Homo sapiens: one gene and its partners. The protein of the gene in region 1 purifies or fractionates together with the protein of each later gene. This does not show direct contact. Each region holds a gene or a part of one and is shown in the gene's direction. Other genes may lie near its edges.

Region 1 (7,033 bases):
GGTAGTTTGCAGATACTTGGCCTGATGACAACTGACAGTGATGAGATACTCACCAAGTTTACCAGGGCAGGAGGCTTCCTAGAGAAAAAATGAGAAAATGAAATGGGGAAGGGGAGTGAAGGATTGAGGAGGTGACAATCTGGACTCTTGCAACTGCATGGCAAGGTTGGCACACAAGCTGGGTTGCAACGGAGGGAAGGAGATCCTTATCAGATGTAATCAGAGCTCAGATCGAGGGCTTTGGTGTGTGTAGAAAGAGGGAGAGACAAAGAACTTAAAACAGAGCTGCCATTTGACCTTGCAATCCCATTACTTGGTGTATACCCAAAGGAGAATAAATCATTCTATTAAAAAGACACATGTGCTTGTATGTTCATGGCAGCACTATTCACAATAGCTAAGACATGGAATCAAACTAGGTGTCCATCTATGGCAGATTGGATAAAGAAAATGGGGTAAATATAAAGCATGCAATACAACATGGCCATAAGAAAAAATGAAATCATGTCCTTTGCTGCAACATGGATGCAGTTGGGACCCATAATCCTAAGTGAATTAACACAGGAACAGAAAACCAAATACAGCATGTTCTCACTTATAAGTGGGAGCTAAACACTGAGCACACATGGACATAAATATGAGAACAATAAACACTGTGGACTACTAGAGGGGGGAAGGAGAGAGGTTTGTAAAACTACCTATCAGGTGCTATGCTCAATACCTGGGTGATGGGATTTACACCCCAAACATCAGCATCATTTAATATTCCCATGTAAAAAGACTGCACATATACCCCTTGTATCTAAAATAAAACTTGAAATTAAAAAAAAAAGAAAGAAAGAAAGAGGCTGGAAATAGAGGCTCACACCTGTAATCCCAGCACTTTGGGTGGCCAAGGTGGGTGGATTGCTTGAGCCCGGGAATTCAAGACCAGCCTGAGAAACCTGGTGAAACTCTGTCTGTACAAAAAATACAAAAATTATCCAGGCATGGTGGAGCGCACCTGTAGTCCCAGCTAATGGGGAGGCTGAGGGGGGAACATCACTTGAGCCCAGGAGGTGGAGGTTGCAGTGAGCTGGGATCACACCACTGCACTACAGCCTGGGTAACAGAGCAACTCTGTCTCAAAGAGAGAGAGGAAAGAAAAAAGAAAAGATGGACAGATAAGAAAATGCACTTGGAGATTAAGAGAAAGCAGCAACATAGGACCCTGGATAATGTGTTTGCTTAATAACTATCCTGATGAGTTATCTGACTATTCCCAAATGAGTACGTGGCAATTCAGGCTGAACCATCAGAGTAGCCCTCCGGAATCTTACTTATGTACAATAGACCTGCATGCACATTTACTAGAATGAGCCTCTCTCTCTGGTAATCATGTCTGCTTCCACTAATTCCATCTGTTTCCTCTCTCTCCCTCCTATCCTGCTAGATCTTAATTCCTTCGACCTTCCTTTGTTTTTCTAACTCCCTTTCTTTCTCTTGTTATTTAACCTGCTATACTATGCAATTGATCTCCTCTGCACTAAGGAACATGCACTTCAGAATTCTGTTGACATCTTGCATTCCTTTATATTTAGTGAAAGAATGCAAAGGAGTCTACCTGGCAATATTCACTCTGCAGGAGGCAATAATTATTATTCAAATTAAAGGAAGCAGTAAAGAGAAATTCAGAAAAAATGAAATATACTAATCTTCAGCTTTTCATTTCAGCCTACAAGGAAAAAATGAAGGAGCTGTCCATGCTGTCACTGATCTGCTCTTGCTTTTACCCGGAACCTCGCAACATCAACATCTATACTTACGATGGTGAGTAACCTAGGATAGACATACCCCTGCTAGCTAGATCATTTGGAAAGGTTGACATATATTTGTTTCTTACAGCTCCTGATATAATTACATCAATATTTTGTAGCTCTCACTATTGACTTGCCGTGTCTAGCTATTATGTCCAATTGATTACCTATTGCTGAAAACAGTTTGAATTTGGTGCTAATAACAACACATCAATGTCTGTTAAGAAATGTGGATGGATTCTTATTAACAGCCACATCCAGCATATCAACATCCACAATATGTCTAAGGTCTTTCTTTGCAAATAATTTAATAGGCTAAGCCATAATTGGAGTAGATCATAATTTGTAAGAAAATGCTTTATACTTAGAAAACTCAAGAGAAAGAATCAACAACCATAATTGTTTTTGCTTTATTGTAGTCTTTATAAAGTTTCTATACTTTGTATATACATGTCAACCAGCTAATGATAATAATAATTGGCTCAATAAATAAAACTGACTTACGACTGAGGCCCTAGATAAAGAGGGTCTGAAAAGAAAAGCCTAAAGAATTAGCATGGCAATTAACATGATTGAGGTGCAACTCTTTAGGTTTGATTTATCCTGATTCATTTTGCTTACTTTGGCTCTGCCACAATCCACATGATCTTGGTCAAATAGATACTTGGATTCTCTAAGTCTCATTTAACTCTAGCATCTTCCTCTTGGAGTTGTTGTGAGGTTTAAACGGTTTAATGTAAGTCAAATATGCAAAACCAAGCCTAGCTCATTATATCACTCTACAATGATAGCTATCATTATCAACATCATCCTTACCTAATTCAGTCAATTTAACTAAAATATTTTATACAGTTCTATGTATCCTAGATATCCCTAAGGCATATTTTACTAACTCTCAGGCTCACAAATATTTTTCTTTTCCATATATGTAAAGAAAGACATTAATGACAAAACAAACTGACCTTGTGGCAGTTAACCCCTTCTGCACCTTTAAAGCCTATTCAAGGACTCAAAGGCATTTACCTTCCAAAGTTATTCTATCGTAGCACAAAAATCATAAATGCTAATTAACTGTTCCATAAGGAAATGTCCTCCATGTGAAAGGAATTCTGTCTCCAAACAAAACATTCATTAGAATGCAGGGCCAATGCCTACTTTGTACAAATTCATTCGGTCAGCAAATAAATTAGACAGACCTTTATTATTTGCTAGATGTAGCTGTGAAGAAGGATCCAGCTATGTTTCTTATGAGACTAATGTCGAACTATGGGTTGTCACTGAGGATCCAGAGTTCCATAGGGCGTAGTCCTCACCTTCAAAGAATTCAGGGCTTAGTAGAAGAGTCTTACACAAATGACTAGAATGTAGAACACAGAGTGGTTAGGACAAAGGAGCCAGGGATGGTTTTTGCTGGGTTAGGGAATGAAAAAAGGGGAAGAAAATATGTGAAGTTATGTGTGAGCTGATTCTTGAAATAAGCTGTTTTTATTTGCCTGCGTTCTCTTATAATCCTTTTCCATAGGCTTCCATAATTTTTATTGAGCTGTATTTAAAGTTGAATAGATAATTCAACATTTCTCGTAAACTGTGCTTCCTAAAAGAGTCCGTAGAGAATTTCAAATTTCTGCAGTCTTTAACTTGACCTGGTATTTCTATGTTAGATAATAACGTGACTTGTTTATTGCAGGCAAACATTATAACAATAAATTATTATTATTGTTTACATTTGTAAGCACTAAGTATATGGCTTGTGCTTTGCATTCAGCATCCTTTATCATTTAATCTTCACAACCACCTTAGAAGGAAGGTACTCTTTTTATTTCCATCTTTTAAATGAGGAAATAAAAGCATAAAGAAGTTAATTAACTTACCTAGTGTCACACAGCTATTAAGAGGGGCTTACTATTTGGATGCAAATATAGGCAGTTCTAATTCCAGAGCCTCTAATCTAAGGCATTTAAAACCCCATCACCTTATCAAATAAGCTGTTTTTATTTGCCCGTGTTCTCTTATAATCCTTATCCATAGGTTTCCATAATTTTTATAAAATTGTATTTAAAATTTAAGTATAATCTTGGATGCCATCAGGAAAATGAAAAACATTTTTACATTTGTGAAGGAAAAAGCCCACATCATTTCCAATATAGTTATTGAGTTAGTATTATCTAGACTATCTATTAGCAGCTAAGGATCTGAGGTCAAGGCCTGCCAGCCTGGCATTTTACTTGACCACAACCTCCATGTGCACTAACCAGGCTGCTAAAAGAACATTAACGGGAACATAACCTGCTGGCTTGGTTGCCACAATTTTAAAAAGACGTTAATAAATTAGAGAGCACTTAGAGGTTAGGAAATAATATGGTGGTAAAGATCTAGAAACAGTGTCATTCTGGGGCACTTGAAGATGTTTAGCCTGGGGGAACAACTTGAAATGGAACATAACTGTTTTCAAATACTTGAAAAATGGTGGTGCACCACAGAGAATGGCCTAATCATGGGTAGCTTCAGACTTCAAACAAGGATCAGTGGGCTAAAACCAGAGAGATGGAGTTTGGGACTCAAAGAATGCTCATCTGAAATTGAGGGCTGACCAGCGAGGTTCTTTTAAAAATCATTGCATTTTACTAAATTGTGAGTTCTGTAATTATAAATGTCCTAGCAGGTGCTAGCTGTCATCTTTTCTATTATAAATTATACTATTTTATGTTATAATTTGTATTATACAGGCTTAAAACATAAGGGTCTGATAATCTGCTTATCTTTAATACATAAGCCACTGATAGAAAATAAGTGGCTAACCATTCTTCAGTTCTTTTTTTAATTGACAAAAATTGTATATGTTTGCGGTGTATGGCATATTTTGAAATATGTATACATTAGAGAATGGCTAAGTGAAGCAAATTCACATATGCATTACCTCACACACCTGTCATTTATTTGTGATGAGAACAAAAAATCTACTCTTTCAGTGATTTTCAAGAATACAGTACATTGTTATTAACAATAGTCAGCATGGTGTACAATAAGTCTTCTGCGGCCGGGCGTGGTGGCTCACGCCTATAATCCCAGCACTTTGGGAGGCCAAGGCTGGCAGATCACGAGGTCAGGAGTTCGAGACCAGCCTGACCAACATGCTGAAACCTTGCCTCTACTAAAAATAGAAAAATTAGCTGAGTGTGGTGGTAAGCGCCTGTAGTCCCAGCTACTCAGGAGGCTGAGGCAGGAGAATTGCTTGAACCTGGGAGGCGGAGGTTGCAGTGAGTCGAGATAGTGCCACTGCACTCCAGCCTGGCAAAAGAGGGAAACTCCGTCTCAATAATAAGTCTCTTGCATTTGTTCTTCCTGTTTAACTGAAATTATGTATTCTTTGATCAACATCTCCCCAGTCTCCACCCCTAACCCCTGGTAACCACAATTCTACTCTGCTTCCGTGAGTTCAACTTTATGAATAGTCCACATGTAAGTGAGATCATGTGGTATTTGTCTTTCTGTGCCTAGCTTATTTCACTTAGCATAGTGTCCTCCAGGTTCACCCATGTTGTCAAAAATGACAGGATTTCCCCCAACTTTTTTAAGGCTGAACAGTATTCCATGTGTATGTGTATAAATTAGATTAGTAGATGTTGCCACTCCCTCCTCCACCACAGTGGCTCTATCCCTGGCTCCTGGCTCCAGCCGAGTACACTAGAGGAGGATATTCTAAACAGCAACAACACAGGAGCAAAGACATTACAATGGGGTGTTGTCTTATTGCCCCCATTAGACTGTAAGCATCTTGAAGACAAGGACCCCCATCACAGAGTGATGTTGTCATCCCTGGAGTGGGCACTGTGCATGATTGATGACTGGAAGCAATGAACATACAGAAGGGCAAAACAGAAATCAGCAGGATGCTTTGCATTTCAGCATTGACTTTGCCAAATATGCCCAACTGTTCAGGGAGTTACATTGGTTCTAACGAAGCTCCTGTGATTCCTAAGCACAGGAATGGTGATAATATATATAATGGTGCATGCATATATACGCATATCTAGATAATGATATCTCATTATATGTGAGAACTGAAGAACTCCGTTATGTTTCTCGTCTAACCAAAAAGGGCCTACAGCTACGATAATTTCCAAACAAATAAATCTGTGCTACTTGATTTTCATGCAAAGCTCATATTTGTTCAAAAGGAAAATAAAGCTTAATTTAAAATCAATTTAGGCTATTTTTATCTAAGTATGCTTACCGTTATTCAACTCCCTGCAGATATTGTCAAATTTCTCAATATGGTAAATATTTATTCTGTTAAAATATATCCATAGTTACACTAAAGACAGAGAGGTCTTATATGTTCTAAACAACATAGAGCAAATGCTCATAAACAGCATTTTATTCCTATCTCCCGGAATAACAACGCTACTTCCAATTGCTGGAATCTAAATTATTAAAATAAACCCATGCTGCAAGCTTTGTATGCTTAACATTCTCAAATGTTCACTTTTCAGATATGGAAGTGAAGCAAATCAACAAACGTGCCTCTGGCCAGGCTTTTGAGCTGATCTTGAAGCCACCATCTCCTATCTCAGAAGCCCCACGAACTTTAGCTTCTCCAAAGAAGAAAGACCTGTCCCTGGAGGAGATCCAGAAGAAACTGGAGGCTGCAGAGGAAAGAAGAAAGGTAACTTTTTCCATAGGTTTTCCTTCTCTCTCTCCCTCCCCTGCTCCTCCCTCTCACACACTCGGGCACACATGCACGCACACACACACACACACACACACACACACACACACACACACACATACAGAGAGCAATGACAGCTGAACCTGTGCCATGCCAACATGTATAGGTTTTCAGTAGACACAGAGCCAGGCTAGTTGGGGTAAAAACTGTAAGATAGATGCTAATTTTAGGCTAGCCAAACCAGAGCTCTCAGAAATCCAAAGAGCTTCAGTGCTCTAGTGCCCCTTCCCGTATATTGAATCCCCTTATTATAAAAGCCTCCCTTCCCTAGACCATCAGGCAGAAGCACTGTAGAGAAAACACAGCCCTGGCGAACTCCAGTGGTGGGGAGGGGAAGAAGTGCTGCTTCCTCCCTCTCAGGATCTGTGTCACCCCCTTTGTCAGGCGTGGTTTTCCTTGGAATTACAAATTACCAGATCTTCCCTCCAAGATCTTTCCTGCCCAGGGTAAGGGCCAAGAGCTTGCCCCTTTCCTCTTCAGAGTCCCACTGCCTGCCCTGGAAGTTGGT
Region 2 (7,033 bases), on another chromosome or scaffold:
AAGCTAGGGAACATAATATTGAAAGGAATTGGCTGGGCGGGTGCGGTGGCTCACGCCTGTAATCCCAGCACTTTGGGAGGTCGAGGCGGGCGGATCACCTGAGGTTGGGAGTTTGAGACCAGCCTGACCAACATGGAGAAACCCCATCTCTACTAAAAATACAAAATTAGCTGAGTGTGTTGGTGCATGCCTGTAATCCCAGCCACTTGGGAGGCTGAGGCAGGAGAATTGCTTGAACCTGGGAGGCATAGGTGGCAGTGAGCCAAGATCACGCCATTGCACTCCAGCCTGGGCAACAAGAGTGAAACTCCGTCTCAAAAAAAAAAAAAAATTGAAGGGAATTTGTAAAATTCTGGACTAGGCTGGCTGGGCACGGTGGCTCACGCCTGTAATCCTAGCACTTTGGGAGGCCAAGGCAGGCGGATCACGGGGTCAGGAGATCGAGACCATCCTGGCTAACATAGTGAAACCCCGTCTCTACTAAAAATACAAAAAAAATTAGCCGGGCATGGTGGTGTGCACCTGTAGTCTCAGCTACTTGGGAGGCTGGGGCAGGAGAATGGGGTGAACCTGGGGGGTGGAGCTTGCAGTGAGCCGAGATCGCGCCACTGCCCTCCAGCCTGGGTGACAGAGTGAGACTGTCTCAAAAAAAAAATTCTGGACTAGGCTAAATTGTCTGTGGTAGCTCACACCTGTAATCCTAACATTTTGGGAAGCTGAGGCCTCAGGATCCTTTGAGTCCAGGAGTTCCAGACTAGCCTGGGTAACATAGGGAAACCCTGCCTCTACCAAAAAAAAATAGCCGGGCATGATGGCACATGCCTGTAGTCCCAGTTACTTGGGAGGCTGAGGAAGATTGCTTGGGCCCAGGAGGTCAAGGCTGCCGTGAGCTGTGATTGCATCACTGCACTCCAGCCTGGGTAACACAGACTGTCTCGAAATTAAAAAAAAAAATTATGGTTTTGGTGTAATAAATATAAAGTAGCTTTGTACCTTTGGCCCAATTAAAATTTTCACATTAAGATTTGTCCGAGATGGTCGTTTATTAGGACAAAAGAAGCCTTATGATTGCAGGAGAAGAAACTTTTGTTTTGTTTTGTTTTTTGTTTTTTGAGATGAAGTTTTCACTCTTGTTGCCCAGACTGGAGTGCAATGGCGCAATCTTGGCTCACTGCAACCTCTTCCTCCCAGGTTCAAGCGATTCTACTGTCTCATCCTCCCAAGTAGCTGGGATTACAGGCATGCGCCACCATGCCTGGCTGTTTTTTGTGTGTTTATTAGAGACAGAGTTTCACCATGTTGGTTGGGCTGGCCTTGAACTCCTGACCTCAGGTGATCCACCCGCCCCAGCCTCCCAAAGTGCTGGGATTACAGGTGTGGGCCACTGCGCCTGGCCAGGATTTATAATGGAGGTACCAGAAAGCAGTCAAGCTGCATGGACCATGGATTTTCTAATGATGTTTTGTTTTCCTCCGATTTTCTAATGATGCTTTGTTTTCCTCCAGACTTCTCTGAGGGTTGTGTGGTTTATGAGACTTCATAGTGTTAAAATCTTTGAGTCTGTCTAGCTAATACCTTTCCCTCAAAATGCCATCTGGTAACTTGTTCAGTTTTGTCTTGAGAAGGCAAGCCTGACCTAGGACATTCTTAGTTTGAAGAGCCTTGAGACCTTGGTTTGTTTTGGGAATATCCCAGGGAATTTGCATTATTTTTATTTTATTCCAGAGACAGGGAGACAGGGTCTCACTCTGTCACCCAGGCTGGAGTTCATTGGTATGATGATAGCTCACTGTAACCTTGAACTCCTGGACTCAAAGCAGTCCTCCTGCCTCAGCTTTCCAAGTAGCTGAGACTACAGGCATGTACCACCATACCTGGCTAATTTTTTGTTGTTGTTGCTATGGATTCTTGCTCTGTTGCCCAGGCTGGAGTACAATGGCATGATCTCCGGTCACTGCAACCTCTGTCTCCTGGGTTCAAGCAATTCTTCTGCCTCAGCCTCCCGAATAGCTGGGATTACAGGCGCCCAACACCATGCCTGGCTAATTTTTGTATTTTTAGTAGAGACAGGGTTTCACCATGTTGGCCAGGCTGGTCTCAAACTCCTGACCTCAGGTGATCCACCCGCCTTGGCCTCCCAAAGTGCTGAGATTACAGGCGTGAGCCACTGCCCCAGCATTTTCTTTCTTTCTTTCTTTCTTTTTTGAGATGGAGTCTCGCTCCGTCGACCAGGCTAGAGTGCAGTGGCGCAATCTCAGCTCACTGCAAGCTCCGCCTCCTGGGTTCACACCATTCTCCTGCCTCAGCCTCCCGAGTAGCTGGGACTACAGGAGCCTGCCACTACGCCTGGCTATTTATTTATTTATTTATTTATTTATTATTTATTAGTAGAGATGGGGTTTCACCGTGTTAGCCAGGATGGTCTCGATCTCCTGACCTTGTGATCCGCCTGCCTCGGCCTCCCAAAGTGCTAGGATTACAGGTGTGAGCCACCGCGCCCGGCTTTTTTTTTTTTTTTCTGAGGCGGAGTTTTGCTGTTCTTGCCCAGGCTGGAGTACAATGGTGCAACCTCCTCTCACCACAACCTCTGCCTCCTGGGTTCAAGCGATTCTCCTGCCTCAGCCTCCTGAGCAGCTGGGATTATAGGCATGCACCACCATGCCCGGCTAATTTTTAGCAGAGATGGGGTTTCTCCATGTTGGTCAGGCTGGTCTCGAACTCCCGACCTCAGGTGATCTACCACCTCGGCCTCCCAAAGTGCTGGGATTACAGGCGTGAGCCACCATGCCCGGCCTCCTTTTCTCAAAATAACTGTGCTACTGCATTTGCCTATGTTAGTTGTCACCCAGGCTGGAGTGCAGTAGCATAGATCCTGGCTCACTGCAACCTCCTCCTCCCAGGTTCAAGTGATTCTCCTCCCTCAGCCTCCCAATTAGCTGGGATTACAGGCACCTGCCACCACACCCAGCTAATTTTTTTGTATTTTTAGTGAAGACAGGGTTTCACCATGTTGGCCAGGCTGGTCATCAAGTGATCCACCCGCCTTGGCCTCCCAAAGTGCTGGGATTACAGGCGTGAACCACTGCACCCCGCCTAATGTTTAAATTTTTTGTAGACGTGGTCTTACTGTGTTGCCCAGGCTGATCTAGAACTCCTGGCCTCAAGCAGTCCCCCATCTTGGTCTCTCAAAGCACTGGGATTACAGGCTGACTGCCTTTGCATTAAAAAAAAATTATTTAGTCTTTGAGACCACCAAGTGAAGAGAATGGCCTCAAGTGTAGATCAGTCCGTGGATGGGAACTGTTGGCATGTGATTCTGATCTTTTATGTTATTGATGTAAGGTATAAGAATTGAGGCAACTCTAAACTATTTACCATATCAGTTTAATTAGAAAGTTAATTACATCGAAATAGAAATCTTGACCTATGAGACCCTATATTCTTTGGCTGTCACTGCCCCTCTCTGACCTCCACTTTCGCTGAAAGCAGGTGGGAGCTCTGCCTTGCTTACTTGGCACAAAGCACAATGGGCTTTTGGCTGTTTCTCCCTGCAACCACCTTAGGAGGACCGTTTATTTGTGTCCGTCCTACCCCTCACCCCTTGCTCTTTTTTCCATATCATTTATCACCTCCAAATATACTTACTGTGTTTATTTTCATTACCTGTCTTCCTAGAGTGTCAGCTGCAGTGATCTTTTCTGTTTTGTCCAGTTATGCATTCTGAGTGCCTTAGAATAGTGGCTGGCACATAGTTAAAGGCATTCACTAAATACTTGTTGAATTAATTAATTTCTGAAATGTCTGATGTTAATGCTTATGTGTACATAGCTTTACTATTTACAAACTGCTTTGATTCATTCATTTTACAAATAAAATTGAGGACCTTCTACCAGCCAGGTACTTTTAGACAGTGAGAATGCAAGGGTGATAAAAAAAAAACAGGTCTAGTGGAGACAGACATCAACCATATAGTCCCACAAGTGAAAGTAAAATTGTAGCTGTGCTAAGTTTAGAAATGTCACAGCATGGTGCTCTGGAAACCTAACCCAGGATTCACGTTTGTTACCCTTTTGAGCCTCACAGAACCTTACACCTTAAGGTAGCTAAATCATGCATTGTTTTCTTGAGGCACATAGTAGCTAAATTATTGGGTTGCACATCTAGGTGAACATAGCTTATTTCACACTCCTTTATCATTTCATGGCCATTCATTTCTGAAATGCCCCCCTCATCCATCCTCACCTCCTCCCTCCGCCTACCTGTTGTCAGCACAGAGTCATCCATGTAATAGCGAGTTTCTGGGACTGGGGTTGTGTTGTGAGAGATGGGATTCTTTGTAATTTCACAAAATGGTAGTTTGAATGGCTAATTGAAATATTTACATAGGGTCTTTATTTCTGAAGGGATGTGAAAAAGACATCTTATTTTAGATAATTCATTAAGCAAATATTATTGAGTACCTGTTTTGTACCAGGCACTATGCTAGGCTCAGAGATAGAATGTGAACAAGATGTACATGGTCTCTACCCATACAGGGTCCACATTCTAATGAGGGAGACACCCGGAAAGACAAGTTGATGGGCATAAAGAAAATAGTAATAGTAATGAATTGTATTAACTTCTAAGAAGGCAAGAACCTTGACATAGAGAATGACAGGTCATTTCCTTTAGGTAGGGTGGAACAGGACATTGAAGTTGAGGCCTAAAGGATGAGGAAGAGGGAACCATGGGAAGAGAGGACGCAGGAGTGTTCTAGATAAAGGCCCTGGGAAGATCAGAGGTGAAATTGGCTAGGTAGGGAAAGTTGTTAACATGATGGGAAAATCCAAATAATGATTTAAAAATACTTGAAGACAGGCATGGTGGCTCAGGCCTGTAGTCCCAGCTGCTCGAGAGGCTGAGGCAGGAGGATTGCTTGAGCCTGGGGGTTTGAGACCAGCCTGTGCAACATAATAAGACCCCCCATCTCTGAAAAAAACCAAAACAAGGCCAGATATGGTGGCTCACGCCTGTAATCCCAGGACTTCGGGAGGCCGAGGTGGGTGGATCACCTGAGAGGAGTCTGAGACTAGCCTGGCCAATGTGGTGAAACCCTGTCTCTACTAAAAGTGCAAAATTAGCCGGGCATGGTGGCGCATGCCTGTAATCCCAGCTACTCGGGAGGCTGAGGCAGGAGAATCGCTTGAACCCATGAGGCGGAAGTTGCAGTGAGCTGAGATCGTGCCATTGCACTCCAGCCTGGGCAACAGTGAAACTCCATCTCAACAAACAAACAAAAAAACCAAAACAAAACCACCTCTAAACTGAAAATACTTACTTTGTTCTGATAGATAAGCTAGGGAAAAAAGGCTACTTGGGAGGCTGAGGCAGGAGGATCGCTTGAACCAGGGAGTTGGAGGTTGCAGTGAGCCGAGATTGTGCCACTGCACTCAAGCCTGGCAACAGAATGGTACTCCATCTAAAAAAAAAAAAAAATATATATATATATATATATATATATATAAAAATGAACTCTTAATTGCTGTAATGCACTTAGTCTCAAACCCTGTACTCATTTCATTAAATGCCATTAACAGTTGCAGACTGGCACTGGGCTGTAGACCCATGAGTAACCATGCTTCAGAAGAATGCTGGAGAGGGTGTGTTTGTAGAGGGGAAGAGGAATATGGTAGCTGTAAGCTACCTAGTAGCTAAGTGAGTGCATGGTCAAGAAGAGACTATTTATTTTGAACTATGCTCCCCGCCCCCTAAGCAGGTTTAAATAAGAATTTAATTAGCTTTGTATAGCATCCCTATTGGAGGAACTCACTAGTGAGGCAGAAAAAAATATGCCTTGAAACTGTTGATTTGGATTTTTTTTTTTTTTTGAGACGGATTGTCACTGTGTCACCCAGGCTGGAGTGCAGTGGTGTGGTCTTGGCTCACTGCAACCTCCACCTCCCAGGTTCAAGCGATTCTCCTGCCTCAGCCTCCCGAGTAGCTGGGACTACAGGTGTGTGCCACCACACCCAGCTAATTTTTGTATTTTTGGTAGAGATGGGGTTTTACTATGTTGGCCAGGCTGGTCTAGAACTCCTGACCTCGTGATCTGCCCACCTTGGACTCCCAAAGTGTTGGGATTACAGGTGTGAGCCACCGCACCCGGCCTGGATTTTTAATGTCTCAAGAAGAGACAAAAATCACATTGAAAATCCAAAGCAGCAGTTTCAAGGCATATCTCAAGAAGACAGAAATGACTAAGAGCTTATATTTGAAGTCATTGATAGATTTTATTTTATTTACATGGAAATTTTGGCCTGTTCATTTAGCAGATTGCTGGATCATTACTTCTGGAGAATGTATTTGATCACAATATTATGAAATATAGAAGCACTTTGGTTAGAAATTTAATATGATTTCAGTTTTAAGGGGCACTGTTTCCACAGGACTATTTCTTAATCTAAAATACGGCTGCTGGACTTCATAAAATTGACAAATTTACTGCAGCACTTATATTCTTCTTTGTATTTGAGTATATCTGTAAGACCAGAGAAATTTCTGAAAATTTGTTCTCACACTTGTTTGAAAATGGAAATCACAATAGCATTTTATTATAATCTGTGTGTTTTTACAGGGAACTTTGTAATGAATGATTGACCTTCTTGAGAGCTCTCAGAATTCTAGAGAATAGGAGAGCAGGAGCCTGGGCCCCAGCTGCAGTAAATGACAGCATAACTGAATTTTTTTTTGAAGCCATCATACTTTGGAAGAACCTAACTGAATATTGTTTGCATTGTAGATTGTAGCCAAAAAGAAATGAGAGTTTCAGTGTTCATAACTCAAGGTTTTTAATATTTTTAGATGTGAAGGTAAACTAAGTACTGCTTAGAATATTGACTCTTAGAGATTCATAGACTTCCTTGGTGTAGAGAATGCTTTTCCAGGTCACCTGGTCTATTCTGCATGATGGCTGCTTCCCACCTGCAGAGCTTCACTGTCCATGGAACATGGGATACTTAGGGGAGGGCTTGGTGATTTTACACTTAGCTAGTGC
Region 3 (4,675 bases), on another chromosome or scaffold:
TCGATCTCCTGACCTCGTGATCCGCCCGTCTCGGCCTCCCAAAGTGCTGGGATTACAGGCGTGAGCCACCGTGCCCGGCCATATATATATATATTTTAAGATTATATATTTTATATATATATATATATAATTTTTTTTTAAAAAAAAGAATGAGCTCTGGAAATAAATGCAGCAACTTCAAACCAAGGAGTCACCTCTTGCCTCCCCTACATGGACGCAGAACTCCCACCCATGGGGCTGGGCCCACGTCTTGCCCCCATTTCTAGCACTGCCCCCACCAAGGGCTGTGCCTTCACACCCCCGACACCAGGATAGTCCTCACAGACAGGGTGGGTTTCTGGGCCTCGGGCTGATAAGAAGACCCATCCTGATCCTCTGCTGTCTGCTCCTATCCCACAGCGGACAAGTACTGCCCTCTGCTGATCAAAGAAGGGGGGATGCCCCTTCTGAGGGACATAATTAAGATGGCGACCGCACGGCAGGAGACCAAGGAAATGGCCCGGTAAGAGACCAGCAGTGTGTTTCTGCCTGGAACCTTGGTTTAGGGGAGTAAGGGCATAGCGGGCGCCCTCTGGAGGTTAGGAATGGCTGAAATTCCCAGGGACAGCTTAGAGTTGAGTATGGAGGTTGACAGTGTATTGATGTCCACCTGGGGCCTCTCCAAATGTCATCTCGACCACATTGTGGCTGGAAATTAGATGACCAAGCTCGGAACGGAGCATCAGGGCCCTCGTTTGTAAGCTTAGTTTTCTTTTATTCCCAACAAATTCCATCCTTTTATCACTGGGTATTAGCAAGTCAGGTCAGAACTATTCATTATTTTTGGCCAAAGACATTCCCACTAAAGAAGGGACACAGTGTGGTAAAATACATTCTAGAGATAAGATGAGGCAGAGTGCGAGTGAGTTTGCTGAATGTGAAGATCACAAACATGGTGGAGTCTCGGCCTTCCGTGGCTCTGTGGCTTTCACTGCAGCATCTAAAATGTCACCGCCTCCAGTTCTCGAGTTGATCAGGACACGAGAGACTCTCAGGGATGCGACGTGTCGAAATCGTCGAACGACCTTGTTTTCTCCAGGATTCATTCTAGAAGGGAGAACAGTCAAGCTGACCCGAGCACACTTTTTCATGGCTCTGTATAGAGCAAAAGTTCACATGGAGGAGGGGCCTGAAACTCAGAGGCTCCTCAGCCAGCCACTTCCTGGGCCAGGGGAGGGAAGTGTCAGCTGGTTCTGCTATTATATCTGGCCAAAGGCGCTACTGGCCAGGCGAAGTGGCTCACACCTGTAATCCTAGCACTTTGGGAGGCTGAGGTGGGTGCATCACTTGAGGTCAGGAGTTCGAGACCTGGCTAACATGGTAAAACCCCGTCTCTACTAAAAATACAAAAATTAGCTCGGCGTGGTGGTACGTGCCTGTAATCCCAGCCACTTGGGAGGCTGAGGCAGGAGAATCACTTGAATCCAGGAGGCAGAGGTTGCAGTGAGCCGAGATGGTGCCACTGCACTCCAGCCTGGTCAACAGAGCGAGACTCTGTCTCAAAAAAATAAAATTTAAAAATAAATGGACGGGGCCCACCCCTAGGTTTTCTTTTCCAGTACATCCGGGAGGTGGGAGGTGGCCCTGGAATTTTCATGGTTAACAAGGATTCCCGGGAAATTTGAGAAGCACTGGGTAAGACTGACCAGTTACCTACCACAGTCACTTTGAACATTTCTCCAAGGCCTGTGATGGGAATCTGAGGCACTGGCCTGTCTGACAGCAAGGAGTAAATGACCCTGGACAATGCTTAGGAGAAGGCCCTCGGCCTGTCCACTGACCTCTCTCCCACTCTGGGTATTTGTTTCCTAAAAGGTATTGGGGCATCCCTTTAACACACAGAGGCTGCAGTGAAGCCCCCAAACCACAGGCTTGGTGTTGAATGGGCAAGCTGTCCGGGGTCCAAGGTGACAACCAACAGTGATGGGTGGCAGGGGTCAGGCTGGGGCGGGCGAGACTCGAAATCTGAGCTGGAGTGCTGAGCCCTGGCTGCCACAGGGTAGTGGGGGCCCTTGTGCGAGCACAGCTGCCCCTGCCCGACCCTGGACCTGCCACTGGATCCGGGCCTCTAGGGGAATCTGATGTGCAGTCAGTTTGGGGACCACTGGTGGACTTCTGGAAAGAGAAGGGTCTAGTGTGCAGGGAAAATGAAGAAGAGGTCGCTAAAGAAACTTCCAAAGGGTTTTGGAGGTCGGGCCTGAGCTGATTTGGGGACCCCCTATCCACAGATGCCCTGGGACTGGGGGTGGGAGAAGAGGGGCATGGAAAGGAAGGAAGCGGAGGATGGCTGGTGATGGCATTCACGGCCACAGGTGCCATTCCCTGAGTCCCCTGCACATGCCAGCCACTCTGCCAGCCCCTCTGTCCACATCATTCGGTCAGCATCACCATCACTATGAACACGTGTTTACCCAGCTGCCTAATGATCTCGGAGGGGCTGGGCTCACCCCCACCCAAGCCCACCCTCCAATCCTGTCTCCCCCATTGTCTCCAGCAAGGTGATTGAGCACTGCAGTAACTTTAAAGAGGAGAACATGGACACGTCTAGATAGAGGCCTCCGTCCCCATGGCCGCCACCGCTCTGGACCACAGGCGGGGAGGAAGCATGCTCAAGCAGCCCAGCGGGCGGGCCCCTTCCGAGGGAGCCTCCCACGGAGTGAAGAGACATGGGGGACTTTTGCACAACCGACGCTTTTCCTTAATGTTAGTGAGATATATATATATTATATATATATATTTTTTTTTTGGTTAGGAAGTGTGAAGTTTTGTGTGTATGATTTCTGTGCAAAAACAAAAGCAACACTCCTGAGTCCTTGCAGCTTCCTTGGCCATTCTCAAACCCACTCAGCCTTCATCGCTGACACACACACTCCTACCCCAACCAGACTAAATGCCTATAACGCTGTGAGTGTCCAGTCCTTGTCCAGGAAACTCAGATCCCGGCCTGGCTTCCTTTCATGAGAGGAGCAGGCCTTGGACAGCGTATCGAGCATCCTGACCCACTGCCCCTGCCTGAGAACGCCATCTCGGCTCCCGGGCACAGCTGATGGGGTTTGGGGATTAGAACTTACCCCACTGGGTCTCCCAAAAGCCTTGGTGCTCCCGGCTGTGGGCCATCTGGGGCAGGAAAGTGAGCCATTCCTAGGCTGAGGTCCAGGCAGCCCTGCCCCTGAAGACCCTCTAGGAGCAGGGCACCCAGTGGCCCTGCTGCTGTCCAGCCAGGCCTGCCTGAGGCCACGCTGCTATGGAGGCTGCCTCCTAGTCTCCCACCAGGTCCCAGGCTGTGGAAAGCCCCAGCCCAGGGATGGTCAGAACTCAGGGGCAGATTCCACTGCCCCTTCTGCCAAACACATCCAGAACCTGCCCTCAGCCCTGGAAGCTAGCATCTTCTGGGGCCAGGGGCTTGCTTCCTCGCTCCATAGCCCTCAACTGCCCAGGCGCTCCCACCAGCAGAACTGAGCCTGCCTCCTCCTCCCAGCCTGCCCCGCTGCCCAGAGGACCCCACGCCTCTCAGAGGCAGAGGTCCCATGACAGCCTTTGACCCACAACGGCCACACAGCCGCCTCCAGACCAGCACTCGGACTGCCCTGCAGTGGCCGCTTGGGCCTCCCTGGCGGTCCCGCCCTGCCCTAGGCTTTACCTTGGAAGCCTGAGAGGCGCCGGCTCTCTTGCTCCTCCATCGATGGACACTGCATTGCTTCTCATCGGACACTTGTGGAGCGCAGGGGCCTGGGGAGCAGCGCTAACCCTGGAGGCAGCCTTTGGGTGATGGCTTTTTCTTCCCTTTTCCTCCCGCGGGCCTGTTTTCAGGTGTTCCTAGCATTTCTGCCTCCAGGCAGGACGGCAGGGGTGAGCAGCTTTGGGAGAGACACCTGGCCTTTTTCTCCTGGAGCCTCTCCCTCCCGGCCCTGGGAAGTGGGCGCAGCCCTGTGTTCCCCCAGCTTGGCAGATGGGCTGCATGCGGCGCTCCCTTCCTTCCCACGCTCAGCGGCCCCGGCCAGACCCTGGCAGACTTCACACCTCATTGCTTTACCCCCTGGGGCCTGGGGAAATGTCTGTACTTTGGGAAGTCACAGAAATACATTTTTGTGCAAAATGGAAAACAGAGCGTCTTTTTTTGTGGAGGGGATTGCTAGCCTGGCTTCCAGGCTCTGGAGCAGGGCTTGAGCCACCCCTGGCAGGGGGGCTGCAGTGTAGGTAGTTCTGTGGTAGGGAGGGGTGCGTTTGGTGGGTTAAAGGGCTGCAGGCTGGGGACAGGTGGCAGGGGACTGAGCTGGAGTACCTGTTTCCTATGTGTTCTCTTCACATCCCTGTGCCCACTGAGGACACAGCTGGCAACCAGACCAACAGGGTGCCTGCCTAAGATGGCTCAGCCTGATGGGGGAGACAGATGGCAAATAGAAGATTACAACTCTGTGCCACCATCAGGGAGAAGGCAGCGGAGGAGGTGCCTCCTGCCAGTGGATGGGAGTGGGCAGGCGGATCAGGGAAGCTTGGAGTCCGCTGGGCCACAGTGCTTTGGGGAGAGGGGGAGGAGCCAGCACGATGTCCCCATGTGTCTGGGAGGCTTCTTACAAGAGGACAGAGTGGAGCCAAACCCAGGGAAAAGAAGGAGGTTGCCCAGGCCTGGCCCGAG

The links. Proteins that work in one complex are often made in the same cells at the same time.
Region 2: the proteins of STMN2 (region 1) and MTA3 purify together in Homo sapiens (co-immunoprecipitation; 2 studies listed by BioGRID and IntAct, with this or other methods). This does not show direct contact.
Region 3: the proteins of STMN2 (region 1) and ZER1 purify together in Homo sapiens (co-immunoprecipitation; 2 studies listed by BioGRID and IntAct, with this or other methods). This does not show direct contact.

The regions. Positions count from the first base shown.
Region 1 is NC_000008.11:79,635,089-79,642,121, forward strand, and holds part of STMN2 (stathmin-2), read left to right. Parts: exon of another isoform or gene 1-78; intron 79-1,713; coding exon 1,714-1,809; intron 1,810-2,992; exon of another isoform or gene 2,993-3,078; intron 3,079-6,289; coding exon 6,290-6,462; intron 6,463-7,033. UniProt on the Homo sapiens protein: Regulator of microtubule stability. When phosphorylated by MAPK8, stabilizes microtubules and consequently controls neurite length in cortical neurons.
Region 2 is NC_000002.12:42,571,632-42,578,664, forward strand, and holds part of MTA3 (metastasis-associated protein MTA3), read left to right. Parts: intron 1-7,033. UniProt on the Homo sapiens protein: Acts as a component of the histone deacetylase NuRD complex which participates in the remodeling of chromatin.
Region 3 is NC_000009.12:128,729,253-128,733,927, reverse strand, and holds the end of ZER1 (protein zer-1 homolog), read left to right. Parts: intron 1-399; coding exon 400-502; intron 503-684; exon of another isoform or gene 685-1,086; intron 1,087-2,533; coding exon 2,534-2,591; 3' UTR 2,592-4,142; downstream 4,143-4,675. UniProt on the Homo sapiens protein: Serves as substrate adapter subunit in the E3 ubiquitin ligase complex ZYG11B-CUL2-Elongin BC. Acts to target substrates bearing N-terminal degrons for proteasomal degradation with the first four residues of substrates being the key recognition elements.